Linked DNA regions of Homo sapiens: regions 2, 3, 4, 5, 6 and 7 are each reported to be linked to region 1. Evidence: microRNA targets listed by miRTarBase, many of them from high-throughput screens and not tested one by one. Region 1 holds a microRNA gene; each other region holds the end of a gene's coding sequence. Distances are between the middles of the regions.

Region 1 (4,367 bases):
ACCTGTGATTCCATCATTTTGGGAGGCCAAGACAGGAGGATCACCTGAGGTCAGTTGTTTGAGACCAGCCTGGCCAACATGGTGAATCCCCATCTCTACTAAAAATACAAAACTTAGCCCAGTGTGGTGGTGGTACACGCCTGTAATCCCAGCTACTCAGGAGGCTGAGGCAGGAGAATCACAGGAAGCCGGGAAGCTGAGCTCTCAGTGAGCTGAGATCGCACCACTGAACTCCAGCCTAGGCAACAGTGAGACTCAATCTCAAAAAAATAAAAAATAGGCCGGGTGCGGTGGCACACGCTTGTAATCCCAGCACTTTGGGAGGTCGAGACGGGTGGATCACCTCAGGTCAGAGTTCAAGAGCAGCCCCGCCATCAAGACAAAACCTCCTCTCTACTAAAAATGCAAAATATAGCTAGGCGTGGTGGTACACACCTGTAGTCTCAGCTACGTGGGAGGCGGCAGCAGGAGAATCTCTTGAACCCGTGAGAAGGAGATTGCAGTGAGCTAAAATCACACCATTGCACTGCAGCCTGGGCGACTCCATCTCAAAAAATAAATACATAAATAAATAAATACATAAATACATAAAAAATAACCCAGAGTACTGGAGCAAGAAGATCTCAGGCAGTGACCCTCTAGATGGAAGCACTGTCTGTTGTCTAAGAAAAGATCGTGCATCCTTTTAGAGTGTTACTGTTTGAGAAAATCAACGTTGAAGATGCTGCTGATCTTGGTAACACATTTGCAGAGCGTGCTTATCATCAGACGTGCATGATGTTGGGGTTCTGTTTGTTTTGTTTTTTTTTTCCAAGACAGTGTCTCTGTTGCCCAGACTAGAGTGGGTGGCACCTCCAACCGAGATCTCTTGGGCTCAAGTGGTCCTCTTTTTATTTTTTGATTTTTTGAGACCCACTCTGGTTTCACTGGGAGTGCAGTAGCAGAATCTCTGTTGACCGGAAACTCCACCTCTCAGGTTCCAGTGTTTCTACCACCTCAGCCTGCCGAATCATTGGGAATTCAGTTGCCTGCCATCAGGTCTTGCTAATTATTATTGTTTTTTTGTTTTTTTTTTTTGAGGCGGAGTTTCGCTCTTGTTGCCCAGGCTGGAGGGCAATAGCGCGATCTCGGCTCACCGCAACCTCGGCCTCCCGGGTTCAAGTGATTCTCCTGCCTCAGCCTCCCAGATAGCTGGAATTACAGGTGCCTACCACCCCACCCAGCTAATTTTTGTGTTTTCAGTAGAGATGGGGTTTCACCATGTTGGGCAGGCTGGTCTCAAACTCCTGACCTCAGGTGATCCACCAGCCTTGGCCTCCCAAAGTACTGGGATTACAGCTGTGAGCCATCACCCCTAATCTCAAATGGTCCTGTAGAGTCAGCCTAGACTGTGGTCTATCTTGGAGGATGTTTGTGTGTGAGACAATGTATATTCTTCAACATTGTAGATTCCATTTTGGATGCTTCCATCGGGACTGTGTGCCCCTGTCCTGGAACTCAGCTGAACACTTGGCTCAAAATCCATTGCTGTTCTCTGGAAATTCTGCCCTAATCTCTTGGTTAAATATAAGGTATGTGTAGTAGGCTTTGCTTTTTCTCTTTGGGGACAAAACTCAGGAGGGTTGCCCCTTGGTGAACAAGGCTAACCTGCTGAGCCTTTGAAGCAAGGAACTGGAGATGGTCCTTTTAGGGGTTTATGTTCTGGATTCCAGAAAATATGCAAACAGGGCCAATAAATGCATCTTTATTTTGTGTGTATTTTAACCTGGTCAAGGAAAATTCCAACAAGAAACCCAGAGTGCTGGAGCAAGAAGATCCCATGCTGTGACCCTCTAGAGGAAGCACTTTCTGTTTGTTGTCTGAGAAAAAACAAAGTGCTTCCCTTTAGAGTTACTGTTTGGGAAAAGCAGTGTTGAAGTTGATGCTGATGTTGGTAATATATTTGCATGCTTATCATCAGACTTGGATGATGTTGGGGTTCTGGGTTTTTTTTGTTTTCTAAGACAGGGTCTCTGTGGCCCAGGCTGGAGTACAGAGGCACTTCCAACCTAGGTCTCTTGGGCTCAAATGGTCCTTTTTGGGACAGAGTCTTGCTCTGTGACTCAGGCTGGAGTGCAGTGGTGCAATCTCAGCTCACTGCACCCTCCACCTCCTGGGTTCAAGTGATTCTCCTGCCTCAGCTTCCTGGGATTACAGGCACCTGACATCATGCCCAGCTAATATTTGTATTTTTCTTTTTTATTCATTCATTTATTTATTTTTTAGGTGGAGTCTTGCTGTTGCCAAGTCTGGAGGGCCATGGCACGATCCCGGCTGACTCCAACCTCTGTCTCTCAGGTTCAAGCAATTCTCCTGCCTCAGCCTCCTGAGTAGCTGGAATTACAGGCGCTTACCACCACGCCTGACTGCTTTTCGAATGTGTGCGTATGTGTGTGTATGTGTGTTAGAGAGAAAGAGAGAGAGAGAGATGGAGTTTCACTCTTGTTGCCCAGGCTGGAGGGCAATGACATGATCTCGGCCCATACAACCTCAGCCTCCTGGGTTCAAGTGATTCTCCTGCCTCAGCCTCCTGAGTAGCTAGGATTACAGGCATGTGCCACCACACCTGGCTAATTTTGTATTTTTAGTAGATATGGGGCTTCCCCATGTTGGTCAGGCTGGTCTCGAACTCCTGACCTCAAATGATTCACCTGCCTCAGTCTCCCAAAGTGCTGGGATTACAGGTGTGAGCCAACATGCCCGGCCTGAATTTTTTTTTTTTTTTTTTTTTTTTCAAGTAAAGACGGGGTTTCACCATGTTGACCAGGCTGGTCTCAAACCTCTGAACTCACGTGAGCTGCTCGCCTCGGCCTCCCAAAGGCATGAGCCATGGTGCGTGGCCATCAACACCTCTTACTTTATCGAAATTTTTCTGGCACTGGTATAGAACCTCACGTGGGGTCAGGTGGAGTTGAAGGGACCTCAGTGTCCCTGCAGATGGGATGAGCAAGAGCACGGAGGTGGAGTGCATGGGGCTTCAGTGTTTATTGGGGAAATGAAGCTGAAATCTTGGGTGCGTGACCAGGAAATAAATGCATGAGACGGGGGTCTCACTATGCCACCCTGGCTAAAGTGGGCTTAGATCCTCCTGCCTCTGCCCCCCGCAGTCCTTGCTAGATGGGACTACATGTGAATATTAACCCATGCACAGACAAGAAGAATGTAAGAACCATTATTTGGTTCACACCGGGCCCTCAGTTAAACTTGTATTTTAGACAAACAATGTATCTGAGATGTCCTTGAACAACAAATGATTTGCTGTTCAGGTGTGGGCATCTTTGTTTTTTCCCTAATTTTAATGATGGGACTAGTCTGGGTACGGTGGCTCCCGCCTGTAATTCCAGCACTTTGGGAGGCTGAGATAGGAGGATCACCTGAGGTCAGTTGTTTGAGACCAGCCTCGCCAACATGATGAAACCTCGTCTGAACTAAAAATATAGATATTAGCCAGACGGGGTGGTGGTGCACCCCTGCAATCCCAGCTACTCAGGAGGCTGAGGCAGGAGAATCACTTGAAGCCAGGAGGCTGAGCTTTCAGTGAGCTGAGATTGAGCCACTGCACTCCAGCCTGGGCAACAGAGTGAGACTCAGTCTCAAAAAAGTAAAAAATAGGCTGGGTGTGGGCCGGGCGCGGTGGCTCACGCCTGTAATCCCAGCACTTTGGGAGGCCGAGGTGGGTGGATCACAAGGTCAGGAGACTGAGACCATCCTGGCTAACACGGTGAAACCCTGTCTCTAGTAAAAATACAAAAAAAAAAAAAAAATTAGCCAGACGTGATGGTGTGCGCCTGTACTCCTAGCTACTCAGAAGGCTGAGGCAGGAGAATGGCCTGAGCCCGGGAGGCGGAGCTTGCAGTTAGCTGAGATCGCACCACTGCACTCCAGCCTGGGTGACAGAGCAAGACTCCGTCTCAAAAAAAAAAAAAAAAAAAAAAAGGCGGGGTGTGGTAGTGCACATCTGTAATCCCAGCATTTCGGGAGGCCAAGACAGGAATTACCTGAGGTCAGGAGTTCAAGACCAACAGGGCCAACATGGCAAAACCTCGTCTCTACTAAAAATACAAAAATTATCTGGGTGCAGTGGTACACATCTGTAATTCCGGCTACCCAGAGGCTGAGGCAGGAGAATAGCTTGAACCCAGGAGGAGGAGATTTCAGTGAGCTGAAATCACACCATTGCACTTCAGCCTGGGCCACAGAGCAAGATTGTGTCTCAAAAATAAATAAATAATAAAAATGACATAAAATCAATAAATAAAAATAAATACATAAATACAGGAACATCATTAATTTGGATGTCACCTTTGTGCAGGGGCCAGGGTAATCTC
Region 2 (4,367 bases), not on the chromosome of region 1:
CTTTGACCTTTGAGCTGCCGTCGGTCTGACCACAGAAAGAGAAGGTGGATGGCAGTGCTTCAATTACATATAATATAGATATGCTATGCAGTATTATTTTTATAATTTCTAATACAAATGACTATATACTGTCTTAATGGACTTAGAAATGATGCCATAGTGGAGACCATCTTTCCCAAAGGACAGGTGAGTTCCCCTACCTCCATCCTCATCTGAGAGTGGGCTCCAGGGTCTCCCTGGCTCCCCTTTCATGCAATTTTTGCTGGGCAGATTCCAGTGCCCATCTTGACAGCACCCGGGCCGGCTCCGCCTTGGGACACGCCCTCCCAGGGGATACCCTTGTGTCTTAGCAAAAGGTCCTGAAGCCAGGAGGCTGGTCCGCTGAGTCAAGGTTGCTTCATGGAGCCTATTTTGACTTCTCTGTGGACCATTCCTACTTCTCTTCCCAGTGCCGCTCAAACTGTCAGTTTCAACCCACAGGTCCCTTTGTGACTTGGGTCCCCACAACATGTGATTATTGCCTCTCCTACTCTGCTGTCCGCTGTCAGTTGAGACAAATAAGCCATGTGTTTTGGCATTAGCAATGGGCCTCCTGCTCAGGGAGAAAATGAACAAACCTGTCCATCTTCCCTTTTCACTTCCCACACCTGGCATGCTTGAAAGAACCAAGGAGGTGGTATTGCCTCGGCTTGCCATGCACCCCTCATTCCTAATCTCGAGGTGATAGAATTTGGATGTAGTGACAGGATGAGCGTTGCTATGACAACCCACTGATGCTAGGTGCTCCATAAGAGGGCATTTTTGACAGGTCCTCGCAAAGTCTGCCATTTGTGTGGGGACCAAATCTCCTATATTTGTGCACTAGACATACCTAGGGACATAGCACCCTTTATGCCTTCAAAATGCCGCATGCATATTTGTGGGCGTCCCTCTTAAAGAAATAGCAAAGCCTTACTTTGTAATTTGGGAAATAAGAACCAGGTTTGTACTGGAAGTGGACTCGAATCTGGACCTTTCTCTGGGCTCACAGGACTCAAGGCCAGGACTCAATCAAAACATCTGGCTTGCTAGGATGATTCCAAGGGTCCAAAGGGCAGTCATGGGACTATCATGTCGCTTTCTGCATAATTTTTCATTCATTTAGTTCGAGCTGTACTGGCTCCTTCAATTCAGAACTCCTCAGGCTTCTTCAGGCAGCCTGGGCCTTGCAGTGGACTCATGAAGGTTCTTGTCTCTCCCCTTCCCCTCTCTCCTCAGGTGCTCAAATACGCAATCAACCACCAGTTCCTGTGTTTGCAAACTTCCCACTTTGAGACTTCCAACTGTAAGACTGTATATTGTCTTAATGGACTAAGAGTGAGAATGATGTCATAATGGGGACCATCTTTTCCAAGGGACAGGTGAGTCCCCCCTCTCCATCCTCATCCAAGAGTGGGCCCCAGGGTTCTCCTGCCCCCTTTCCTGCAAACTTTCCTCAGATGTGAGGAAACTTCCAACTTTCTCTAAATATAAAAAAAAAAAAAAAATCACATCTGTTAATAGACCTTTTAAAAAAGCCCAGCTAGGCAAGGCTGCCCAGGAACACCAGAGACACCAAAAGAACAGGAAGAAATATGCCTTTTATTAGGAGTTGCATATGTACAGAGAAAGCTGTTTCTCACAGCTCAGGGGAGGCTGTGAGAAAGAGCCACTGTCATCCAAGGTCACTGCGCGTACACTGGTAACACCACTTAGACACCGCCGCACGTGATTAAGAAACAGAACCATGACACAGAAATGCAGAAGAGACACGGGTACGTGTGTGGACACATCATTTCTAAAAACAAGTCAACACAAAAATACAATGTGCCAATAAAAAAAAAATAGACATATCCATACATGTCTTTTTTTCTGTTTTTAAAGTAAATACATGGTATGCTGAGCTTTCACCTCCAGCTTTTTCCACATCGGGATTCACAGGCACTTTAGCACCCCAGCCATGGTTTACAATACAGGATGTTCAGAACAATGAAGGAAGATGGGAGCCACCGAGATCCCCGAGACCCACACACACACTCTAATACTGACGCGAGAGTGAGCTTCCTGCCACCACCGCTGTGGGACCCGAAAATGTTCTCTGTGTGATGTGTAACGGCTTTTCCTTTGTCTTTTATGTTTCATGGCAGAACTACTTAGGAGCGCGGCATCGCCAGTCAGACATGCAGTGTGTGGATGCATTAGACAAGCATCAATTGCCTCTGACTTGAAAAACCGTAGAGAGCAGATCAAAATGACTGTCTGGTTTATCTCTGTCCCATTCTGTGCCCTTCCTGACAAGCTGTCAGAACAAAAACTAATTAAAATAATTACTAGGATGTACTGGGCCATGAGCTCTTCCTAGGAGAATTTCTTTCTTAGCTCTCCCCTCATGATAGACACAGGGCCAATGGCAGGCCCAGCTTCCCCCGGCAGGAGCCACTCCTGTCTCCCACGTTCCCCACACAGAGCTGTGGTGACTCAACCCACGTGTCAGGAACAGGACCGAACAAGCGTATGTATAAACGCAGACCAGGATCATCACTTTATTGGTAATGTTGAGTCATAAGGCAGTTACAAAAGGACCCCCATGGTGACCAAACAATGTTGGACTATGGCTTAGCTTCTGTAATAGGATGACCGACTCTCCCGTCACAAAGAGCTGAGAAAGGAAAGAGAAAACCACAGTGATGACAAAGTACGACAAATGGCTGTGCTGTGAAGTACCAGAAAGCCCCAATTTTTGGTGTATGTCGCCCACTTTTCCTCCACCAGAGACTAAGATGTCATCCCATAGCTAAGAGAACTTAGAGGGAGAAACAGGGCCGCACGTCATCCTCCACTTCAGGTGAATTTGTCACTGCAAGTGGTGCAGGGATGTTACAACCAAGCCGCGGACAACTCATGAGTAGGGCCGAGATTCCTGGTACTGTGGAGAGGCGCAGAGCATATGAACACCTCAAACAGATGATTGTCACAGGGTGGGAAATCCTTCCATGAAACAGACACTTGAGACATAGTGGCAAAGACATTAAGGCCTTCCATTTCTTTGCCTACACCGCTTAAAGGCACTGATACCAACAACAGAAATACTCCATAGTACCATCGAGGTTTTAAAAAAACTCCCAAAATACAAGTCTTCATAGGAAAATGTCTTTTATTGCGCGACATGAAGCATCCGTTATTTGCGTGCTCAGGAATAGAAGGGCCTCCCTTTCTCAGGAGTCTGAAGTCTGTTCAGCCTCGCAACCTGAGAAGGGGAGGGGGGCACATCTTGCCGGAAGGGCCCCTTGGGAGGGGCGTAACTGGGGTCCTGGACTTTCTTATACGAGTCATAGTTGCTGGGCCCCTCGGAAGGAGGCTGCTTCTTCATCTGCTGCTCCTTCCGCCTCTGTTCCTGGCGAAGGAGCTCCTGAGTTTCCAGCATGACCCTGGCGTTGAAGCCATGTCCTCCCAGGTAGCCGTTCCTGGAGCCTTGGTAGCTGGAGTACCTGGGGTTCTCTTTGGCACTCTGGAAGCCTTCCCCAGGGGAGTAGTTCTGCTCCCAAGAGTCCTGGGAGACCGAGCTGGCATTTTTCCTGCTTTGCCTAGAAAGCAAAACCCAAAGGTTAGTGTGAGGGTAGGAAGAAGGAGGGAGAGGGAGGAAAGGGGGCAGGATGGGATGGAATATGCATTTTCACTTTTCAACAAATATTCCTGTTCTCTCATCACATGCCAGACACTGCGATAGGGGCTGGAGAATTCAAAAATGACTGTCCTCAGCAAGCGCATAGTCTTAGACAACTAAACTAACAACGAGTAAACAGGAGAGAGAACTAGACTGTGCAGCTATTTAGAAACAGGGTCATCCTCCTGTGTCTGAGAAGGTTGTGTCTGTTCTGCTTAGGGTACCAATATCTCCTGCAATTTAGACACACTGGCAAAGTATAGAAGTATTAGAGGTTTGGCAGCTTCCATGGTAGGAATAATTGCTCGCTTTAGAACATTACAATTCAATTCTAAACAAGCACAACAAATATTTTACACAGCTGCCACCATAATGCCAGAAGCGCTAGCTAATATGAAGTACATGTAATGGATTACAGTATGAGTTCGGTTATGAAAGATTTAAGTCTAGACTCCTTTATGATAAAAAATGCAACAGGCAGTCCCTTAAAGCTCTGGCTTTCAAGTTGTGTATGTCAGCAACTTACACTCTCCGGGATACCTGCTCATCCAGATTGGACGGAGAGTCCGGAAGTCTGTAAAGTAAGCACTATTTTCTTATACATTTACCTTCACCAAAGGCCAGGGTGACCTACTTAACTTGCTTTCTGTCACCCCAGGATAGGCAAGTAAATCAGAGTCACATG
Region 3 (4,367 bases), not on the chromosome of region 1:
CTAACACAGAGATGTCTTGGGATAAAGAGGGTAAATATGCAATGGCGTGGGGTGTTGTGGAAAGGAAACAAACGTATGGTTCGTGTAGAAAGCAACGGCATTATGCTTCACATACTGGAGGGGCAGTGGGTGCCAGTAGTGTCCTGCTGGTCCTTCCTGAAGAACTGGATACAGAGACTATAAATAACAAGGTTCCCCCAAGAGGAATCATTGTTTCTATCATATGTAACATGCAATCTGTTGGCCTCAATAGCACCGCTTTGAAGATTGCCCTTGAATTTGATAAAGACAGATCAGACTGATAACCTTAACACCATAGGTGCAAAATGAGTTGTTCTGAGGTTTTTTTGAAACATTAAAGTTCCAAAACATGACATTTTTAAGAATAAATTTGAAATAGAGTATAACTGAATGCAGAGAATTATGTACCTCTAATTGCTTAATTTTGTAATGGTCTTTTATTGTAGAATTGGTTCTTTATACTCAGGGAAGTAATTATATTGTTTTTACTTTTTGAAAAAAGTGTTAACTCTTGAAATAAAATATTCTGATAAAATATGTACTTTCTGCATGTGTAATACAGAGAAAATCTCATTCAACAGGAGCCTCCAAATATCCGAGGTTTTTTTTCTTTTCTTTTTTTTTTTTTTTTTTTTTTGAAATGGACTCTTGCTGTGTTACCCAGCCTGGAGTGCAGTGGTGTGATCTTGGCTCACCACAACCTCTGCTTCCTGAGTTCAAGCGATTCTCCTGCCTCAGCCTCCCAAGTAGCTGGGATTACAGGCACCCACCACCATGCCCAGCCACTTTTTGAATTTTTAATAGAGACAGCATTTCGCCATGTTGGCCAGGCTGGTCTCGAACTCTTGATCTCAGGTGATCCATCCGCCTCAGCCTGCCAAAGTGCTGGGGATTACAGGCGTGAGACACTGTGCCCAGCCCAAATATCCTTTTAATATGAGAGCAGAAACAAAAGCATGAGAAATGGTATATTAGTTATCCACTACAGCTTAAAAGAAACGTTCAGAGAAGGAATCGGGAAATCAGGAGCAATATAGTCACGTGGGTCTGGCGCGGTCTCTAATGAGGTTGCAGACAAGGTGTTATGATCATCTGAAGAATTCTCCAGGGCTGGAGGAAATGCTTCCACATGGCTTACTTGCATGACTGCTGGCAAGAGTCAGTTCTCTGGCTGGTGGGTGGCAAGGGGACTCAGTTTGTCACCACATGGACCTCTCTGTAGGGCTGCTTGAGTATCTTATGGTAGTTGGCTTCCCGCAGAGTAAGTGATGAGACAGAGAGTGCCAGGCAGAAGTCACTCTTTTATAAACTAGCCTCAAGTCACATACCATCACATTTGCCAAATTCCATGGGTTACATGGGGCCTAATAAATGTTGAAGAGATTATATACATTGTGAATATTAGGAGGCAGGAATCACTGGGTGTCAACTTGGAAGTTGGGTACCACAGTCTGACCTCTGGTCCCCAATGATTTATGTCCTTCCCAATGCAAAATACTCTTACCTCCTTTCAAATCCTCCAGAAGTTTCACCTTAATATAGCATCAGCTCAAAGCCCAGTATCTTATCATCTAAATCAGGTCAGGTGCAAGTGTGAATGAGGGCTCCTTGGGATGAGTTCCTTAGGTACAGCAACTCAAGTAGTTTCTCTTAAGACCTGTGAACTGTAGTTATTTGCTCCCCATATGTGTAACATACCGTAGCACAGCAGATATAGGATAATTGCTAGATACCGTCCTCTTCAAAAAGTAGGGAAGTGGAAGACATACAGGAGACTGGCAATTCTGAAATTCAGTCAGACAGAGGTTGGCAACTCTGATTAGTATTCAAGGCTTCAGAATAATTCTTAGTTCTTGGCTATGTTCTCTGGGCTCTTAGTTCTACCTTACGAGTTATACTTTTTCTTTTTTTTAAGAGACAGCTGTTCACCATATTTCCCAGGCTGGTCTTCAACTACTGGGCTCAAGTGATCCACCCACCTCAGCCTCCCAAAGTGCTGGGATTATAGGCATGAGCCACCGCACCCAGCCCCTGAGTTATACTTTTTTTAATTGTTCTTTTTTACTTTTTTTTTTTTTTTTTTGAGACAGGGTTTCCCTCTGTCACCCAGGCTGGAGTACAGTGGCACAATCTCGGCTCACTGCAGCCTTAGCCTCCTGGGTTCAAGCAATTCTCCCACCTCAGCCTCTCGAGTAGCTGGGATTACAGGTGCGTGCCACCACTCCCGACTAATTTTTGTATTTTTAGTAGAGACAGCGTTTCACCATGTTGGCCAGGCTGGTCTCGAACTCCTGACCTCAGGTGATCCGCCCCCCTCGGCCTCCCAAAGTGCTGGGATTACAGGCGTGAGCCACTAAGCCTGGCCGCTTCCCCATACCTTTTTTTCATGAAAGGTAGCGTATCTTTCTAGCTGAGTGGTTTTCTCAGTGTGCTTTCCACTTGTAGAAGTTTGGAGACCCAAAGGCCTTTTTATACTCTCTTTCCTTTCCATCTAAGTTAACAGTGGTTCTGCCAATATAATATTTTATTTCTCTAATTTTTGAATTTTTTTTAGCAACCCTATTAACTGACAATATAATATTTTAAAATGTTAAGAGTATCCTGTGAATTTTATTGGGGTTTATGCCAGTAGACAAAAGCCACCCCAAAGTCCCTTCAGAATATCCCCTCTCTAACTTGGGGCTTGTCTCTGCCAAGATAATGGGAAGAACTAATTACGCTAATAATCTAATGAACTCTATTGTTTAAATAGTTCTCTGAAGCACCATGTTGATTCATTTTGAAGTCTTGAGAAAGGATTGTATAGTCATGCCCTCAATATCATCTTTAGACTATGTTTTCCTGGAAGTGCCCTCAATTATTATCTTTGCCTTGAAGCCATTTCTTAATTTTGGCATCATTTGCAATCTGAAGAGTCTGGGAATTTTTTAAACCATCAATTATTAATTCTTTACCAATAGTTCTTCCATTAGCTTATCTTTCTCTTGCATGTTAGTATAAGCAACAAGAATTAAGGAAGCACATTCAACACTGTGTATGGCTCTCTGCTCCTTCTCTTGCCCTGTGACATCCGGGCTCCCCCTTCTCTTTCCGCCATGGTTGTAAGCTTCCTGAGGCCCTCACCAGAAGCACATGCCAGCACCATGCTTCCTGTCCAGCCTGCAGAACCGTGAGCCAAATAAACCTCTTTTTATAAATTACCCAGCCTCAAAACAAAAAAACAAAAAACAACAACAAAAAAAAAAAAACACTGCATATGGAAATCCCATCAGCTAGTCACCCAATTCATTAGGCACATTTTCTGTTTTCTGAGTTACTCCTGGCGACAGTGTTGCTAAATTTTCTGTCAGTACTAAACAAGAATCCCTTCCTCTAATTGCCAATAAGATTTCTCTTACTTTCCTTAAGACTACACCTGCAGCCTCTTCAAAGGCCATACTTCTCAACAATTTCTTCAAGGCTCTTCAGGTTTTCATTAACACTTTCCTTAAAGTCCTTCCAACTTCCATCCGCTGCTCTGTTCCAAATACATACACACATACACACACACACGTAATTTAGATATAATTCACAGTCCATATGCCATAAAATTCTTTAACGTGTACAATTCAGTGGTTTTTAGTATAGTCACGAGATTATGTACCCATTACCACTATCCAATTCATTTTCACCCCAAGAAGAAACCTCATACCCATTAGCATTTGCTCCCCATTCCTCTGTCCTTCCAGCCCCTGGTAACCAGCAATCTACTTTCTATCTCTTTGGATTTGCCTGTTACGGATGTTTCATATAAATGGAATCACACCATATCTGGCCTTCTGTGTCTTGAGCTTTTTCCTGTAGTATAATGTGTATTAGTTATCTATTACTGCATAACAAATTACCCCAAAGCTTATTGTCTCACAGTTTGTGTTTCAGAAATTTGGGGGCAGCTTTGCTGGGTGTTTCTAGCTCAGGGTCTCATGAGTTTGTAGACAAGATGTCAGCAGGGGCTTCAGGCATCTGAGGGAAGGCTTGACTGGGGCTGGATAATCTGATTCCAAAATGATTCACCCACGTGGCCATGGGCAAGAGGTCTTTGTGGCTTGCTGGCTTTGGGCAAGAGTTTTCAGTTTCTCACCACATGGCCCTCTCCATAGGTCTGCTTGTCTGTGCTATGGCTTCCCTTTAGAGCAGGCGATTGAAGAAACAGGGAAACACCTCAATGTCTTTTATAAATCAGCCTTGGAAGCCATATGCCATCACTTATGCCAAATTCTGTTGGTTACAGAAACCAACCCTGATTTGGTGTGGGAGAGGACTGTAGAAAGGAGTGGATACCAGAAGGTTGGGATCATTGGGAGCCA
Region 4 (4,367 bases), not on the chromosome of region 1:
AGCTCTGCCTCCCGGGTTCACGCCATTCTCCTGCCTCAGCCTCCCGAGTAGCTGGGACTACAGGTGCCCGCCACCACGCCCAGCTGATATTTTTTGTGTTTTTAGTGGAGACGAGGTTTCACCGTGTTAGCCAGAATGGTCTCGACCTCCTGACCTCGTGATCCGTCCGCCTCGGCCTCCCAAAGTGCTGGGATTACAGGCATGAGCCACCGCACCCGTCTGGCTTGCTAATACTTAACTGTCAGAGTTGAGCATATCAACTCCCCCAGTGCTGAACAACCCAGGCCTATCCTGTAAAACCTAAAATATGGAAGACCTGAGAAGGTGCATGTGCTCTGCAGGCAGAAAAGCACTGAAGAGGGGAAGGGGCTGGCTACGGGTACTCAGTTCTTCCTCCCAAACTCACTGATCCACGCGCCTTCATCTCTGGGGAGGTAGAGAAGACAGCCATATGGAGAAGGCAATTGTTTTCCCACCCCTTCAAAAGAATGTACATGGGTGTGTTTCCATCTGTGATATGCTAAAATTTAATCTACTCTAGATAGATTTTTATATTAAGGAAGAGTAAGCACATTCCTTTATAAACAGAAACTTGTAGAATTTTATGCTGCTTCTTCATAGCCCAGAAGTCAAGCTTGTTTTTGAATGGTCATTTCATGACTTTCTTTTTAAAGGAACCAAAGGTAAATGAAAATACTAGTATAAAAGTACCACTTTTATACTATAAATATATTTATACTGTATATATTTATATATATTTATACTATATATTTTTTTACTATATATATTTATACTATATATATTTATAAGTATGTGTTCAGCACTGTGACAATTATTGTTACAAGGCATGCTTCTTTTAGATCATAATTGGGATACAACTAGAGCCTTGATTTTTTTTTTTATTTTCCTTTCGTTTTTCATGCCTGTTGACTGAGTGTATCTTATTTCCATAGATTGAGTGGGGAGCTTGTGCACTTGTTCTCACAGGAAACACAGTCATCTTTGCAACTATACTAGGCTTTTTCTTGGTCTTTGGAAGCAATGACGACTTCAGCTGGCAGCAGTGGTGAAAAGAAATTACTGAACTATTGTCAAATGGACTTCCTGTCATTTGTTGGCCATTCACGCACACAGGAGATGGGGCAGTTAATGCTGAATGGTATAGCAAGCCTCTTGGGGGTATTTTAGGTGCTCCCTTCTCACTTTTATTGTAAGCATACTATTTTCACAGAGACTTGCTGAAGGATTAAAAGGATTTTCTCTTTTGGAAAAGCTTGACTGATTTCACACTTATCTATAGTATGCTTTTTGTGGTGTCCTGCTGAATTTAAATATTTATGTGTTTTTCCTGTTAGGTTGATTTTTTTTGGAATCAATATGCAATGTTAAACACTTTTTTAATGTAATCATTTGCATTGGTTAGGAATTCAGAATTCCGCCGGCTCTATTACTGGTCAAGTACATCTTTTCTCTTAAAATTATTTAGCCTCCATTATTACAAAAAATTATAAAAATAAGTTTTCAGTCAGTCAGGATGACATCACTCCCAATGTTATGCAGACATACAGACGGTTGGCATACGTTATAGACTGTATACTCAGTGCAAATATAGCTGCATTTATACCTCAGAGGGGCCAAGTGTTAATGCCCATGCCCTCCGTTAAGGGTTGTTGGTTTTACTGGTAGACAGATGTTTTGTGGATTGAAAATTATTTTATGGAATTGCTACAGAGGAGTGCTTTTCTTCTCAATTGTTAGAAGAATTTATGTTAAACTTTAAGGTAAGGGTGTAAAAACATTTTTGAGATAAGGTTTTTATTTATGTTTATTATTGTTAGAGTGAGTTGCAATGTGGGAAGAAATGACATTGAAATTCCAGTTTTTGAATCCTGTTTCTATTTATAAGTGAAATTTGTGATCTCCTATCAACCTTTCATGTTTTACCCTGTTAAAATGGACATACATGGAACCACTACTGATGAGGGACAGTTGTATGTTTGCATCATATATGCCAGAAAACCTTCCTCTGCTTCCTCCTTTTGACTTATTTGGTATGTTGTATATATTACATAAAATAACTTTTCAAATATAGTTTAATAACACTTAGAAGTGTTTACTTACCTGGAAAATAATTGCTATGCCGTACATTCAGAGTGCCCCCTCCCCTGCAAGGCCTTGCCATGATTAACAAGTAACTTGTTAGTCTTACAGATAATTCATGCATTAACAGTTTAAGATTTAGACCATGGTAATAGTAGTTCTTATTCTCTAAGGTTATATCATATGTAATTTAAAAGTATTTTTAAGACAAGTTTCCTGTATACCTCTGAACTGTTTTGATTTTGAGTTCATCATGATAGATCTGCTGTTTCCTTATAAAAGGCATTTGTTGTGTGAGTTAATGCAAAGTAGCCAAGTCCAGCTATATAGCAGCTTCAGAAACATACCTGACCAAAAAATTCCCAGTAACCAGGCATGATCAATTTATAGTGGTCGTTTACATCTAATAATTATCAGGACTTTTTTCAGGAGTGGGTTATAAAAACATTCAAGTTGGTCTGACAGTATTTTGTTAAGGATATTTGTTTGTATGTTTATTCAGTATACTTACATAAAAATTATTTCGCCATCAGCCAAAACTCAGTAATCATGACAGCTGTCTGTTGTTTTATGAAGTTTATTTCTCAAGAAAATGGGAATAAATTTGGGATTTGTTCAGCTTTTTTACTAAAGATGCCTAAAGCCACAGGTTTTATTGCCTAACTTAAGCCATGACTTTTAGATATGAGATGACGGGAAGCAGGACGAAATATCGGCGTGTGGCTGGAGCCTTCCCACTGGAGGCTGAAAGTGGCTTGTGGTATTATAATGTTCAGATTTCAAGAGGAAGGTGCAGGTACACATGAGTTAGAGAGCTGGTGAGACAGTTGGGAACTCTTTGTGCTTGTGATCTACTGGACTTTTTTTTGCAGGAAGTGCATTCTCTGGTCCTTCCCTATTTTCTGTTCTGGATGTCAGTGCAGTGCACTGCTACTGTTTTATCCACTTGGCCACAGACTTTTTCTAACAGCTGCGTATTATTTCTATATACTAACTGCATTGGCAGCATTGTGTCTTTGACCTTGTATACTAGCTTGACATAGTGCTGTCTCTGATTTCTAGGCTAGTTACTTGAGATATGAATTTTCCATAGAATATGCACTGATACAATATTACCATTCTTCTATGGAAAGAAAACTTTTGATGATGAAACAATAAAGATTTTAAATATCTATTTTAGTTTGTGGGTGTTTTTGAAATGAAAATATATGGCACACTTTCATTCTGAAGTGCATTAACATTCTAATAAGGTGATGTAAAGCAAGATGACATTGGTGTAATGTTAGAGTTGCAGAAGTTTCCATTCCAAAATAAAATGGAAACCATAGTTACAGATATTACAATGCAGCCCTGTAATTTTGAGCTGTAGTAAAAGGATTGGTAATCTGGGAAGTAGAATTTTTACAAAATCTTTTACAAAAATAGTCATAAAAGGTTTTGTTGACATTTAAGACTACTACTGATCTAAAGGCAAGGTCCTACTTCTTAAATTTTCAGAACATTTTTATGACTTCTTATTATGTATTTATTACCACTCATTATTATAGCATGTTACTTTTTGCAAACATTTTAAACAAAAAATATTTCTGTTTGGTACACTGTGAAGAGAGAAAAGTACTGTTCTGTATTTTCAAATATTAGTCGTGTCCCAAATTGTCCTAATTATAATCTTATCATATACTTTAAAAAGTTTAGGCTGTGGACACTAAATGTCTGCTCTAATATGATTTTGGGGACATTGTCAATACAGATTTTTTTTTTTTTTTTGAGACTTGCTTTGTGCCCAGGCTGGAGTGCAGTGGTACGATCTTGGCTCACTGCAACTGCTAGGTTCAAGCGATTCTCATACCTCAGCCTCCTACGTAGCTGGGATTACAGGCATAGGTCACCACACCTGGCTAATTTTTGTATTTCTTGTAGAAACATGGTTTTGCCATGCTGGCCACACTGGTCTCAAACTCCTGGCCTCAAGTTATCGCCCTGCCGCTCAGCCTTCTGAGTAGCTGGGATTATAGGCCTGCACCACCACGCCTGGCTAATTTTCGTATTTTTTGTAGAGATGGGGTTTTGCCATGTTGGCCACGCTGGTCTCAAACTCCTGGCCTCAAGCCATCACCACCACAACCCCCCTCAAACCACCCCCCCGCCCCGAAAAAAAGTGCTGGGATTACAGGCGTGAGCCACCACACTTTGGCCAAAATAATCCAGATTTCTAAAGTCTAGGATATTTATATTGAATGTGACTAGATTTTTAAGTTTCAGATAAC
Region 5 (4,367 bases), 2.9 Mb from region 1:
TGATGTCTTGAATGTGGGTGGTGTCAGAAAGAGAGTCAAGGATACAACAATTGGAGGTCTGGAGGGGCCTGAAGGGGTAATGGGAGGAAAACTGCATGAGGAGCTTTTTTTTGTGGGGGACATTACAATATTTGTTTGGGGACATGTGAAGTTTAAGATGTCCATCAGATATCCAACTGGAGATGGCAAATAGGCAGTGAGATATATAGTTGGGTCAACAAATACACATACATATGCAAGCACACACATATCTCTTGAGGGGGTGGGGTCATTAGAGCATAGATGGTATGTTAAAACTGAGATTTAATATACCAGTGAGATTTTGAAATTGTCATCCCATTATTCGAACATTTCCTCTGAGAGAGCATAGTTATGTTACATTCTTTTGTTTATCTTATATCTACTCAGTTGTACCGTTTTAAATTCAAACAGCTTTTCTCTTGATATGACATTTCATTTCTGATCATATAAGTCTATTTTCCTGCAAGTAACAATGGTGGCCCCTTCCTTTCCAATATTTATCCTTTTCCTTTTTTCTGTTTCAGGGCTTTGTGGAGTGGTCAAAAGCTCCACAACAAACAACCATAGTCTTGGTAGTGTGCGTGCTTTTTTTGTTCCTGGTTTTAACGGGGATGCCTATGATGTTTCACATTTAACTATAATGGTGGCTGTTGTTTTAAAAGTTTAATTTAATGAAATAGATGCCCTATGTCATGTTAAGGAATTGTGCTAGTTAAAAATCAGGAATAGGTGTTGAATATTTTCAAATGCCTTTCAAACATCCTTTGAGATGATTTTTAAAAAATTTTTGGTGTGAGTTTTCACATACTTTATTTCCATGAAATGAAGACATCATTGATTGTAAAACATTATTTTGTATACCACGGAGAAAGAAAAGTGCTAATTAATCATTAAGATGCCACCAACTGGAAGATATCTCCTGACTTTGAGAAGATGAAAAAATGTGCAACTGAAGATCAATGAAATCTGGTACATTTCCTAACATCAAACCAACTTTGCATTCTTAAGGTTTTGGTGCACCAGTCTTTTCATACACTAGATTATATTTATTGATATTTTATGTAGGATTCTTGCCTCTATCTTCACATGTGAGATTGGTGCTATCTTTGTGAAGTTTTGGTATCATGGTTAAGCTTGCATCATAGAAAGACTTGGGTAACTTTTACCTTTTCTATGCTTTTCAATAGTTTCTGTAGCTTAGGAAGTATCAGTCCCTTGACACCTTACATGAATTCATTGTTATAACCAGGTCATAGAGTCATGGAGAGAACGTTTCAGCTAATTCTTGGGCAGCTTTCTTAGTTCTTTACAATGTTATCAGTTTATTAATACTTTTTACCTCTTGCATTTATTTTGGCGAATTACAGAGGTTTTTGTTTTTTTTTTTTTTTGAGACCGAGTCTCACTCTGTCACCCAGTCTGGAGTGCAGTGGCGCCATCTCGGCTCACTGTAAGCAGAGGGTTCATGCCATTCTCCTGCCTCAGCCTCCCAAGTAGCTGGGACTACAGGCGCCCACCACCATGCCCAGCTAATTTTTTGTATTTTTAGTAGAGACGGGGTTTCACCGTGTTAGCCAGGATGGTCTCGATCTCCTGACCTCGTGATCCGCCCGCCTTGGCCTCCCAAAGTGCTGGGATTACAGATGTGAGCCACCGTGCCCAGCCCAGAGTTCTTTTATCCTCTAGAAAATTCTTCATTCCATAGAGCTTTTTCATATTATTAGCTTAATTATGCATAATGTTTTATAATTAAAAATTTCTCTTTATTTTGTTCTATCCCCTGTTTCCTGTAAACTGCTGTTTGTGGTTTACTCGTTATTAGATTTGTCAAAGGTTTATCTAGCTTACTATTGTTTTTCCAAAGAACCAACATTAGGATTCATTTATATCCATTATTTCTTTTATTTGTAATTTGTTTTTCTTTGATATGTATTGCATTTATTTTTTATTGTTTTTCTTCTTTGTCTCAGTTTTTATACTGAATACTTGATTTATATTCTCTTTATATTTTCTATAATAGCATACTTATTAACGCAAATGTACTTCTGGATATAGCGTTGGCCACATCTTAACATTTGATTATTCATTTTTGTTTATGTTGTCTAAAAATTACATTGTAGTGTGTCTAAATATTACATTGTAGTGTTTCTAAAGAGTGCTTTGAAACTCAGTGATTTGGTTTATTTTTTGTTTAAAAATAGTTTTGTTTTCTTGTTTTACTGCACTGTGAACACAGAATGTGGCCTATAACACATCTGCTTCCAAAACTTTTTAAAAAGCTTTTAGTGTGGCCTAGAACATGTCCATTTTTTGTAATTGTTTCACGAACATTTAAGATGAAGATATCTTCTCTGTCTGTAGAACTGAAAACTTTATGTGCCTGTTAGTTAACTCAGTATCGTCAATTATATTGTTCAGATTCATGTGTTATCTAATTTTGGCCTATTATATTCATTAAAAACCAATAAGGTTATGTGAAACTTTGTTAGTACAATTGTTTTTGCTAATAAATTTTTATAATCTTTGCTTTATGTACTCAACAGCTGTGTAATTCGAGGCATATAAGTGCAGCATTGTTATGTCCTTGTTAATTAAATAATATATGTAAAACACCATATGACAATGGCTGGCAGATAGTAGGCACTCAATAAATGTTAATTAAAACCTGATTCTGAATCCTTTGTTAAATATAAAATGATTGTTTTCAGTCAATTTAATCCTTTGCCTTAAATTTTACCTTGTCTAATACTGGTTGATATTATCATCCTGCGCTCTTCTGTCTATGTATATGAGGTTCTTTAGAGAAATTAACAGGGAAAAGTATGGATTATCTCTCCATTCCTCTCTCAGGCTGATTGCCTGCAACAAGCAACCAGCCCTTAAGAGAAAGGAAAACAGGCCTTAACTATTACATTTTTTGAGATTCTACTGGAAATAAGAGAAGCTCAATTCAAATGAGCTTAAGCAAAATAATAATAATAATTATTATTATTATTCGTTCATGTTACACCAAAGTTTAGGATAAAATTGGCTTTATTTACAGCTGGTTCTGGGGGACCTAAAAATATCACTGGGGCTTTTCCTCTCCTCACCTCCCTCTCTTCCTTCTACATGGCTGGAGACAGCTATCATGGACCCTGTGATCATCTCTTCCACACGGCAAGGTGGGAGACCTGGCAGATTCCCATCACGCACACCTGCAACTCGCATCCTTGTTCTGCCTTGGGGACAAGAGTCCTGAAATTAGGGGAGAGAGAGCAGCAACTGCAAAGGCCCTGAGACATAAACCGACTGCCCAAGTAAAGGATGGAGAATGGACTGCAGCAGGTCAAAGGCGGAAGCAGGGAGATAAGTGTGGAGACTGTCTTAGGTGTCCAGTCAACAGGGGATGGGCCGGGCATGGTAGCTCATGCCTGTAATCCCAGGAGGGAGGCCAAGGCAGGAAGATCACTTGAGGTTAGGAGTTTGAGACCAGCCTGGGCAACACAGTCAGACCCTGTCTCTACAAAAAATAATAGTAATAAAAATTGTCAGGCATGGTGGCATGCACCTGTAGTCCCAGCTACTCAGGGAAACTGAGGCAAGAGGACTGCTTGAGCCCAGGAGGCTGAGACTGCAGACAGCCATGATCAGGCCACTGCACTCCAGCCTGGGTGAAAGAGTGAGACCTTGTCTCAAAAAAAAAAAAAAGCACCCAAAAATGAAAAATAGGGGATGATGTTGGGGGGCTAACTGGGCTCTGATTAGCTCAGACAGTGCCACAGGTCTTGACTGATTTTGTGGAATATTGAAAATAATCATGGCCGGGCATGGTGGCTCACACCTATAATCCCAACACTTTGGGAAGCCAAGGTGGGCAGCTCACTTGAGGTCAGGAGTGCGAGACCAGCCTGGCCAGCATAGTGAAACCCTGTCTCTACTAAAATACAAAGAAATTAGCTAGGTGTGGTGGGCACCTGTAATCCCAGCTACTTAGGAGGCTGATGCAGAAGAATCACCTGAACCCGGGAGGTCGGGAGGTGGAGGTTGCAGTGAGCAGCAGAGATTGTGCCATACCACTGCACTCCAGCCTGGTCAACAGAGCAAGACTGTCTCAAAAAAAAAAAAAAAAAAAAAAAGAAGAAAGAAAGAAAGAAAGAAAAAAGAAAAAAGAAAAGAAAAGAAAAAAGAATCATGATACTATCAGTAATATAAATCACATTAGCAATGGTCTTCTAATTAGCTCTACAGTATGCCAGGGACCTAATTTCATTGACGACAGAAGTATCCACTCAAGCCACTGACGTTCCATTCTCTACCCGACAGCTGGATAGATCCCATTAAAACATAATCAACCAGATTGGGCA
Region 6 (4,367 bases), not on the chromosome of region 1:
TTCTAGTTTAAAGCAGAATCAGGACTAGAACCTCTGTAACTGACATTTTGGTCTCTTTCCTTTGGGATTCTGTAGTTTTGAGAAGAAATCTTAACTCTCCCCTTTCAGGTCCAAGAGTGATCTGATCATATGACTTGTGTTTGTAAGCACTAACATACCTCAGGGAAGGAAAAATAGGTAAATGTTTCACCTGCCCATAGAAAAGCACTCACACTTCCCTCTCCTTCCTTCTTACTACTGTAGGCTTGGATAAAATTGAGTTTCTCCAGAGCCACGAGAACCAGGAGATCTACCAGAAGGCCTTCGACCTCATTGAGCACTACTTTGGTGTAGAAGACGATGATAGCAGCCTGGCTCCCCAAGTCGATGAAACGCAACAGCAGTTCATCTTCCAGCAGCCTGAGGCCCCCATGGAGGGCTTCCAGCTATAATATCTGCCTCCAGGGAGGGGAGGGGATGGGAAGCACCACCAGCCAGCGGAAGAGCAGCCCTCTGGTGGGCGGGAAACCAGTGTCCCCACCATCAGCCACCACACACCTCTGCTGCCCTGGAGACTGTGCTCTTGACCTGCTCCGCCCCCTTCCCTGGAGGGAGCACCCTCTGGACAGACAGAACCATCTGAGGCTCACCTTTGGGTTTTGTGACAAGAAGGGGACGTGTTGGGTTTTTCTTCCTTACACTATATTTTGGCTGCACACATGTCTTTAACCCAGGAGCCCAGGGGTAGACAAAGGAGGACTAAGGTAATCAATTTGCACCTTTTTTTATTTTTATTTTTTTTCTTTTTTTCTTCAGTGGTGACTTCCTTCCCTTTATCTTTTTTCATTCTTCCCGGTCCTCTGCCCTGATCTGTGTAACTCTTATCTTGGGTACTTGAGCAGACGGTATATTCCAGAGGTGGGAGGTGGGAGGGGAAGGGAGAAATCCAAAACAAAGTGTTCTTGCTCTGACAGAATATTAATCTTGTACGCTTGGATTGAGTTATTTAATTTTTTTTTCTTTTGCACATTTTTCTTGTATTAAGATTGCTCTTCCCAAGAGCCACAAGTTCCTGGTTTTAGTAAACCCAGCTGCCTGCATTGCCTGGGACTAGAGGCTGGGGAGGCTACCATGAAACAAAGGTCCCTCCCTCCCTCTGACTCTTTGCCCAGACCTCTTTAGTTTGGGGGATCCTCCTCACTCTCCTGAAGTGTCTCAAGTATACCAGTGGGAGTGCAGGGGAGGAGCACAGGCCTTCAGATGGGGCTTCCCACGTGTAGCTACTGATCCCATATTTCCTACTCACCTTCCAAATGGTGCGACCCAACTTCATTTGTTTACTTGAAAATTCCCCCTCGAGGTTGAGAGAACCTCTGAGGTGGCTGTATTTTCTCCTAAGCTTGAGATAGGGGGCTGTGGTCCTTCCTTTCTCCTGAGGAGAAAGTCCTTGCTCTGGTGACCTGTAAGTTGCAGAGGAGGGTGGAGTGAGAGTGTCATGTATTGGGATAGTCAGGGATCCCTGCCTTTGGCCTTTCTTCTTCTTCTTCTTCCTCTTCCATAGTTGGATCATGTATATTTTACTTCTAAAGGAGAGAATGTCAAAAAGTTCTGTATTTTTTTATATTCTATATATTAGGTAGGTCAATCTTAATTGGTCTCAAGAGGAAGAACTGTCTGTCATTTCGGTAAGTAGGATACTGTGAGGAAGACCAAAAAGAGATATGGATGCTTCCTCGCTCAGGAGGCCTGAGCTTGGTCCTTTTCCTCTCTGCTTGGATTCTGGACCACCACCTGGGACCAACCTTCAGCTCTGGAACCTTCATAAAGCAGGTCAGCGTGGCCTGATTGTCCCAGGACCTGAAGGGAGCAAGGATGGCCTCAGGGCCTGGTGAAGTCTGCTACTCTGTCCTTACTGCTGAACATCCTGCTTGTATCAGGAAACTCAGAAGCAGTTTGCCTTGTCAAATTCAATCTCAATGGCCATTGTCCACATAACTGATCACCCATGGCTGCCTCTCCTATTATCTATTATCACTGAAACTTAGTAGCCTGCTTTTTTTTTTTTTTTTTTTAGAGCTATTGCGTATCTTCCCTGTTTGGGATCCTTGTACCTGGTTTGGGTTTTCCCTTCCTTGTGACAATTATAATCCAGATGCCTCTTCTTTCTGTTTGAATTACGGTAGTGCATTGCCTTAGTGGCTTGCCTGTGCCTCTGGGTGGATTACATATGATAGTAAAGCCCACCTGTTTGGATGGGAGTAGAGGAAGTTGGTGTAGACCAGCTGTGGAGCTGAAGGCACAGTCTGCCCCACCCCCACCTCCCCACTGTGGTTAGTCAGAGGCATCCTGCTCCAAGCTCTGCTTTTCCTTCCTCTGAAACAATGCCATTCTTGCTTCTATTGCTACACATCTCCTTCTGGCTCAGGTGAAATCCATGCCCTTCTGCTTATAGACCTAAAGTTCAGGTACTTATTATTGGCCATTGATCTTGAATTTGCCCTCTCCTAGTGCTGCAGTCCCACTTCAAAGCCATTTTCTGAGGAGGATGGTTTAGGTCTGGCAATTGTCCTTGAAAAATCCCACCCATGTTGTACCACCTTGGTGAGTCATATGCCACTCATCAGCTTGGGAATGATGGCTGCCAACTCCCAATCTCCCAGGAAGGCAGGGGGCAGAATCTTTTTTTCACTTGGCCTGCTACCTCCATTAAAAAACCATTCTCTTACAGTTTAAAAAAAAAAAAAAAAAAAAAGCCTTCCCCTACCCAACCTCCGCCCATTGTTCTCTTCCAAAGGGCAATTTAGTAGGATCTACTTTGTACATCTCAAGTAAGAGTTAAGTCCCTGATACAGGGACCAGTTTCTTAGTGTAAGACATACACATCCTGCTTGTCCAGCTGTTCCTCCAAAATCTACTTTGGCTTCAGCTCCGGGTCCTGTACCAGATGGAAAATGTTTTTGGTGATCTGGCTGCTGCTTAAAGCCAGTTTTCCCTAAGAACTCCAAAGGCTAAAGTCTACTAGGGGCAGAGTGTGAGGATAGATTTCTAATCAGAGAAAAGTGGCCTCCAGGAGCTTTCATTTATGTCTTCTCCAGACCAGGTTTTCCTGTTATCTTCCTTTAATCCCCTTTCAACCAACAGGTGAAGTTCTTCCAGCCCACAGAGGTAGTAATATCATCTTTTCTATCTCCTCCTCTCCTTTGGCCATGTAATGAAGCAAAATATTATTTATTTAGCCCAGGCTTGAGAGCCACTGTTTGTGGACAGTCTTCATCTAGATTCCATACCCTGGCCTAGGCGAGGTAAGGCTCTCTGGTTATTGCCAGGATGGAGCCCCTCTACCCCAGTCTGCTGTAGGGAATACCCTAATTAGTTGAGGCATGCTTTTGGAATCCTGGCATGTTGGCATATGGCTGGTCTATCCTTTTTAAGATCTCTGGTTGGGGGTATCTGGATATGGATTAGGAGGGACAAGGAGCCTTTTTCTTGGCTAATGTTTTCCAATACTTTTTTGAATGGTGCCAGCCCCTCCAGGCATCCCACCCCCAAATCATCATCTTTAGTACTAACAGGGTGTCTGGTCTTAGAAGCCTCCCTTCAGATCCCAGCTGACCCTGGTGACTGCCTGGCCTTGATGTTGGCTGCAGCCTTCTGATAGAACCACATGGATTCCACCCACAGCTGGCCAGGCTTGTTACATGGGTCAGGGAATACAAATGGCCCCCCCCCAGGGAGCAGGTGTTGGCCTCAGTTTTCAGGGACCCTTGGTGTTGCTCCTTACCTAGAGCCCATTAATCTACCCCATCAACTCTCTGCCATGAAAGCCATCTTCCAGGAGCCCTGTTTTTTGGAGCTGAACTGCACAGATTATAGCTGCTATTGTACTTAAATAAGGGAGAGGAAAAGAAGGTTCTCAGGCACAGACTTTCTATTTTTCTCAAGCCAAACCAGTTTAAAATGTCTAGCAGAATGAACTGTATTTCCATTTCTTCATGTCTACCTGCCTTCCCCCCACACCCTAAAGTTGTACTTGTTTCTAGCAAACTAGAAGGAAAAGATAGGAAAGCCTGGCACTACTAACCTCACCTCTCATACACCTCTTTGAAGGCCCCAGCTCTTTTGTTCAGGCCTCTCTTCTCCCCTAGACTCACTCAGCTTGGTATCCATCATCTTGAGCATTCTTCAGTAGATTCATCTAGGGTTCAGATTCCAGACTCTCAGCTGAAGACAGGGAGCCAATTTCCCCCAGGTCCCTGCAGGTAATCCAGGGACCCCATAGGGAGAACAGGCTGACTGGGGCATTAGGAATGTTTGTACCTCTCTGCTTCCCTGGCAGCCTGGGGAAGGGTGCAGGGCTCAGTGCGCTAAACCATGGTAAACATCTTCAA
Region 7 (4,367 bases), not on the chromosome of region 1:
TCCCTAAAGGGAGAAAGGAAGAAGGAGGATGGAGAACTTGGTTCCTAAATTTAATATAAATCACAGTCACCCCAGGAGCCTGCTAACTGTGCAGATTATCAGGCCCAACCCCCCGAGATTCTGACCCAGCAGCTCTGGGGGAAGGGTGAAGAGCCTGCTTGTTTAACAAGTGCTCCAGATGAGTCTAATGCAAGTTGCCAGCGGAGGGCCACCCTTTGAGAAACCTCTCAGAGTATTTCATAACTCTTGCTGAAGTTATTTCTTCCAAGTGCAGAAAATGAAGCATTTTCTTTCTAATTATAGAGGCCCCCAGAATGAGAAGTGACAACAAGGAAAATCCACAACAGGAAGGGGCTAAAGGAGCAAAGCCATGTGCAGTGTCAGCTGGCAGATCCAAAGGGAATGGTCTGCAGAATCCTGAACCAAGAGGGGCAAATATGAGTGAACCTCGGTTGTCACGGAGGCAGGTCAGCTCCCCAAATGCTCAAAAGCCATTTGCTCACTACCAGAGACATTGCAGGGTGGAATACATCAGCAGCCCCCTAAAAAGCCACCCACTGAGAGAGCTAAAGAAAAGCAAAGGAGGTAAACGGAGTCTGAGCAACCGTTTGCAACATCTTGGTCACCAGCCCACCCGCTCAGCAAAGAAACCCTACAAATGTGATGACTGTGGGAAAAGCTTCACGTGGAATTCAGAGCTGAAGAGACACAAGAGAGTCCACACAGGAGAGAGACCCTACACGTGCGGAGAGTGTGGAAACTGCTTTGGGCGGCAGTCAACCCTGAAGCTGCACCAGAGGATCCACACTGGAGAGAAGCCATACCAGTGTGGCCAGTGTGGGAAAAGCTTTCGCCAGAGCTCAAACCTTCACCAGCATCACCGACTTCACCATGGGGACTAAAAGGAGCACTCCATGCTTTAGATTCACACGGAAGGTGTTTGTGTTTCTCCTCCCCCTTACTTGCATGTAAATCACAAAAACTGTGTGACTTACAAGGAAAGCACGAGGCCCTTGAGGAATGATGATGCACATTCTGCTGTGAGGAGGCCCAGAAAAGGCCAACCAGGGCCCAACCGTGCATGATGACAGGGTGAAGAGAAGGCAGGTCTGGGCACTGGGGCAAAGAGAACTTAAGTCTCTGCAGAGAGCAAGGAGTAACTACTGAGAGAGAATCAGGACAATCCTGCAGGTGGCCCGCTTACTGTTAAATCGTCCCTCTGTTGCTTTATCCTCTAAAATATGTTAAGGGATAAATTCTATATATATAGTTATGCATTTGCTGTCATACCAGACAATTTTTTATCATGAGCACACTTCTTTAATAAAGATGAGTGATCTACCAGAATTTCAAGGCAAAGTTAATTGGAAAATAGATCCCTCATATTCTTTCTGTAATTACTAGCTGTTTATAGCAAAGGATGAATTAAATGAGAATATGCACGTTTGTGCGAGAAGAGTTTCCAAGTAGTTAGATGGTGCTTTTACAAAAAGAAAAGAAAATTACATTTGAGGGATCTTTTTTGTATCAAAGCACCTTTTTTTTTTCCTTTTTATTTTTTGAGACAGGGTCTCGCTATGTTGCCCAGGCTGGTCTCGAACTCCTGGGCTCAAGCAATGCTCCTGCCTTGGCATCCCAAAGTGCTGGGATTGCAAGTGTGAACCACCGTGCCTGTTCTCAAAGCACCTTTGATTGAGAAAAAAAAAATCTACACAGTTGCTGCAACCCCAGCCTAACACATAAGGAAAAGCTACAGTGAGAAGCAAGTAGTGGACAAAGAGTACTAAGGAGATATAAAAGGGAATTCTTCCCACTCTCCTTTCTCACTTAGCCCATTAGCTTTAAGAATAACAAAATGCAATGGGGGTACAGTGGCTCACACATGTAATCCTAGCACTTTGAGAGGCTGAGGCAGGGTGATCGAGCCCAGGAGTTTGAGACCAGCCTGGGCAATGTAGCTAAATCCTGTCTCTACAAAAAATACAAAAATTAGCCAGGCATGATGGTGCATGCCTATAATCCCAGCTAGCTACTCTTGGAGGCTGAGGCAAAAGTATTGTTTGAGCCCAGGAGTTAGAGGCTGCAGTGAGCTATGATTGCACCACTCCACTCTAGCCTGGATGACAGAGTGAGACTCTGTCTCAGGAAAAAAAAAAAATAGCAAAAGGATTGGGGTAATGAAAATATTCTAAGACTGGATTACAGTGATGGTTGCACAACTCAGTAAATTTACTAAAAATAATTGAAATGGGCTAATTTTATGATATGTAAATTGTACCTCAACAGCGTATTTTTAAGTGACAAAATATATTTATATAAAATGAGCCCTGGAAATAAGCCTGAGCGATCATCTAATGCCACCTCCTCGTTTTCTCAAAGCGGAAATTAAAATGCAAATCAGTATACAATTCCTAGCTCATTGCTCAGTTTAGAGAAAACTTTTGGCAGATTAGTGCATTCCTGATGCAGAAAATAAGAAGCAAGTAGCATTTTTTTTTTTTGAGACAGGGTCTCACTCTGTTGCCCAGGCTAGAGTGCACTGGCGTGATCATGCCTCACTATAGCTTCGATCTTCTGGGCTCAAGCAATCCTCCCTCCTCAGCCTCCCGAGCAGTTGGGACTACAGGAATGCACCACCATGCCTGGCTAATTTTTCTATTTTTTTGTAGAGACAGAGTCTCACTGTGTTGCCCAGTCTATCCTCGAACTCCTGGGCTCAAGCCATCCTCTCACTTTAGACTCCCAAAGTGCTGGGATTACAGATGTACGCTCAGCAAGGTAGCATTCTTCACAAAACATCAGTATCATCAAGTAACTACCAGTCACCTCAGGGCTGTGGGCTGAGCTCTTCTGTACCCCCCAAGGAATCTCTTGTCCCTTCTAACTGCCGAGGGACATATGCACACCTATGAGTCCTCTTTGGGGCCTTTGCACACAATTGTTTCCTTTGCCTTTATTTCCTGATGCTCCCCACTCCCTCCTGCCTCCTCCCTCTCACAAGAGTTTCCTTCTCTCAAAGCCTTCCCTGAGGAGCCCTAGGCAGACTTCTGTGAAAATTGGGGTCCAGCCTCTCTGCTAGACCCCATACACCAGGGGTGCTCAAACTGGGAGCCCCCCAGGGGTTGTCGGACAAAGTCCAAAGACACTTTTGGTTGTTAGGACTGGGGAAGGGAGGCTTGTTGCTGGCCTCTAGTGGGTTCTACTGAACCGCCTGCAGTGCCGGGACAGCCAGCCCCCACAGCAATGACCTGGCTCAAAAAATCAGTATCACCAAGGCTGGGAAACTACCATGCACTATAACAGCTCTTTCAAAACAAGAACATTGTTTTTCCATAACTTTAGCTTCTGGACTTTGTCAATAACCAGCCAAGAGAAACAGATGTTCAGTATGTGAACAGTTGAGAATCCCCACTGTACCCACAGGGCCCATGTCTGCCTGAGTTCAGAGATCCTGGTGACAATCTGTTGAATGCACAGGTGAGCTTCTGTCTTTTGGGCAGAGGCTTATTGAAGGCCCAGTGGCCTTCCTTACAGCTTTTGTGGTCCTTTAGGTACTTTAGGCCCTGATCCCATTCCCATCTGTTATGTTAGATCATGAAGAATTTAGCTTCTGTATCCGAGCTGCCCCATACCTGGCTCCATCCTGATACCTCTCCCTGGTCAAGGCCTCTTTCTTCCTCATTGTGTTTCCACCTCACCCTACTGAAACCAGGCTGATTTCACTGTTGTCCCTTAATAACCTCCAAGTCATAGTCACATCTGTATTAGGTACTTTGTGGTGTGGTAACAGATGACCCACCAGCTTAATGGTTTAAAACAACACAAACTGGGGCCGGGCGTGGTGGCTCACACCTGTAATCCCAGCACTTTGGGAGGCCAAGGTTGTGAAAAGTTCACCTGAGGTCAGAAGTTCAAGATCAGCCTGGCCAATATGGTGAAAGCCTGTCTCTACTAAAAATACAAAAATTAACCGGATGTGGTGGTGCACGCCTATAATCCCAGCTACTCGGGAGGCTGAGGCAGAAGAATCACTTGAACATGGGAGGCAGAGGCTGCAGTGGGCCGAGATTGTGCCACTGCACTCCAGCCTGGGCAGCAAGAGTGAAACTTGGACTCAAAAAACAAAAACAAACAAAAAAACACAAAAAGCAAAAAAACCGCCGGGCACGGTGGCTCACGCCTGTAATCCCAGCACTTTGGGAGGCCGAGGTGGGTGGATCACGAGGTCAGAAGATCGAGACCATCCTGGCTAACACAGTGAAACCCCGTCTCTACTAAAAATACAAAAAAAATTAGCTGGGCGTGGTGGCAGGCACCTGTAGTCCCAGCTACTCAGGAGGCTGAGGCAGGAGAGTGGCGTGAACCCA

What was found. Region 1 holds the annotated microRNA hsa-miR-520h (ACAAAGUGCUUCCCUUUAGAGU, at 1,870-1,891, shown strand). A microRNA usually pairs through its seed, bases 2 to 8, with sites in the 3' UTR of a target mRNA and lowers its output. Matches are read on the target gene's strand: a 7mer-m8 pairs with bases 2 to 8, a 7mer-A1 pairs with bases 2 to 7 and ends in A, and an 8mer does both.
Region 2: miRTarBase lists PARD3 as a target of hsa-miR-520h. The part of its 3' UTR that is shown has no 7-base or 8-base seed match.
Region 3: miRTarBase lists LACTB as a target of hsa-miR-520h. The part of its 3' UTR that is shown has no 7-base or 8-base seed match.
Region 4: the mRNA of LEPROTL1 is a reported target of hsa-miR-520h. The part of its 3' UTR that is shown has no 7-base or 8-base seed match.
Region 5: the mRNA of SMIM17 is a reported target of hsa-miR-520h. Seed matches in the 3' UTR shown: 7mer-A1 at 944-950.
Region 6: miRTarBase lists KPNA6 as a target of hsa-miR-520h. The part of its 3' UTR that is shown has no 7-base or 8-base seed match.
Region 7: the mRNA of ZNF174 is a reported target of hsa-miR-520h. The part of its 3' UTR that is shown has no 7-base or 8-base seed match.

Annotation. Positions count from the first base shown.
Region 1 is chr19:53,740,697-53,745,063 of GRCh38, forward strand. MIR520H (microRNA 520h) reads left to right here and starts at 1,816; the gene lies at 1,816-1,903. MIR517C (microRNA 517c) reads left to right here and starts at 617; the gene lies at 617-711. LOC124904765 (a long non-coding RNA gene) reads left to right here. Exons shown (of 6, transcript XR_007067334.1): 2 at 1,449-1,571. It also overlaps the pseudogene RNU6-982P.
Region 2 is chr10:34,107,961-34,112,327 of GRCh38, forward strand. PARD3 (par-3 family cell polarity regulator) reads right to left here. Exons shown (of 25, transcript NM_001184785.2): 25 at 1,601-3,602. The coding sequence ends at 3,209. Among named protein-coding and RNA genes, the nearest start is that of LINC02629, 210 kb to the left of the region's middle.
Region 3 is chr15:63,141,504-63,145,870 of GRCh38, forward strand. LACTB (lactamase beta) reads left to right here. Exons shown (of 6, transcript NM_032857.5): 6 at 1-558. The coding sequence ends at 302. Among named protein-coding and RNA genes, the nearest start is that of RPS27L, 14 kb to the right of the region's middle.
Region 4 is chr8:30,104,793-30,109,159 of GRCh38, forward strand. It overlaps LEPROTL1 (leptin receptor overlapping transcript like 1), which reads left to right. Exons shown (of 4, transcript NM_015344.3): 4 at 954-3,732. The coding sequence ends at 1,070. Among named protein-coding and RNA genes, the nearest start is that of LEPROTL1, 12 kb to the left of the region's middle.
Region 5 is chr19:56,654,558-56,658,924 of GRCh38, forward strand. It overlaps SMIM17 (small integral membrane protein 17), which reads left to right. Exons shown (of 4, transcript NM_001193628.2): 4 at 546-2,690. The coding sequence ends at 656. ZNF71-SMIM17 (ZNF71-SMIM17 readthrough (NMD candidate)) reads left to right here. Exons shown (of 5, transcript NR_163263.1): 5 at 546-2,690. Among named protein-coding and RNA genes, the nearest start is that of SMIM17, 14 kb to the left of the region's middle.
Region 6 is chr1:32,170,464-32,174,830 of GRCh38, forward strand. It overlaps KPNA6 (karyopherin subunit alpha 6), which reads left to right. Exons shown (of 14, transcript NM_012316.5): 14 at 244-4,367. The coding sequence ends at 431. Among named protein-coding and RNA genes, the nearest start is that of TXLNA, 7.0 kb to the right of the region's middle.
Region 7 is chr16:3,408,018-3,412,384 of GRCh38, forward strand. It overlaps ZNF174 (zinc finger protein 174), which reads left to right. Exons shown (of 3, transcript NM_003450.3): 3 at 304-1,347. The coding sequence ends at 902. Among named protein-coding and RNA genes, the nearest start is that of ZNF174, 9.0 kb to the left of the region's middle.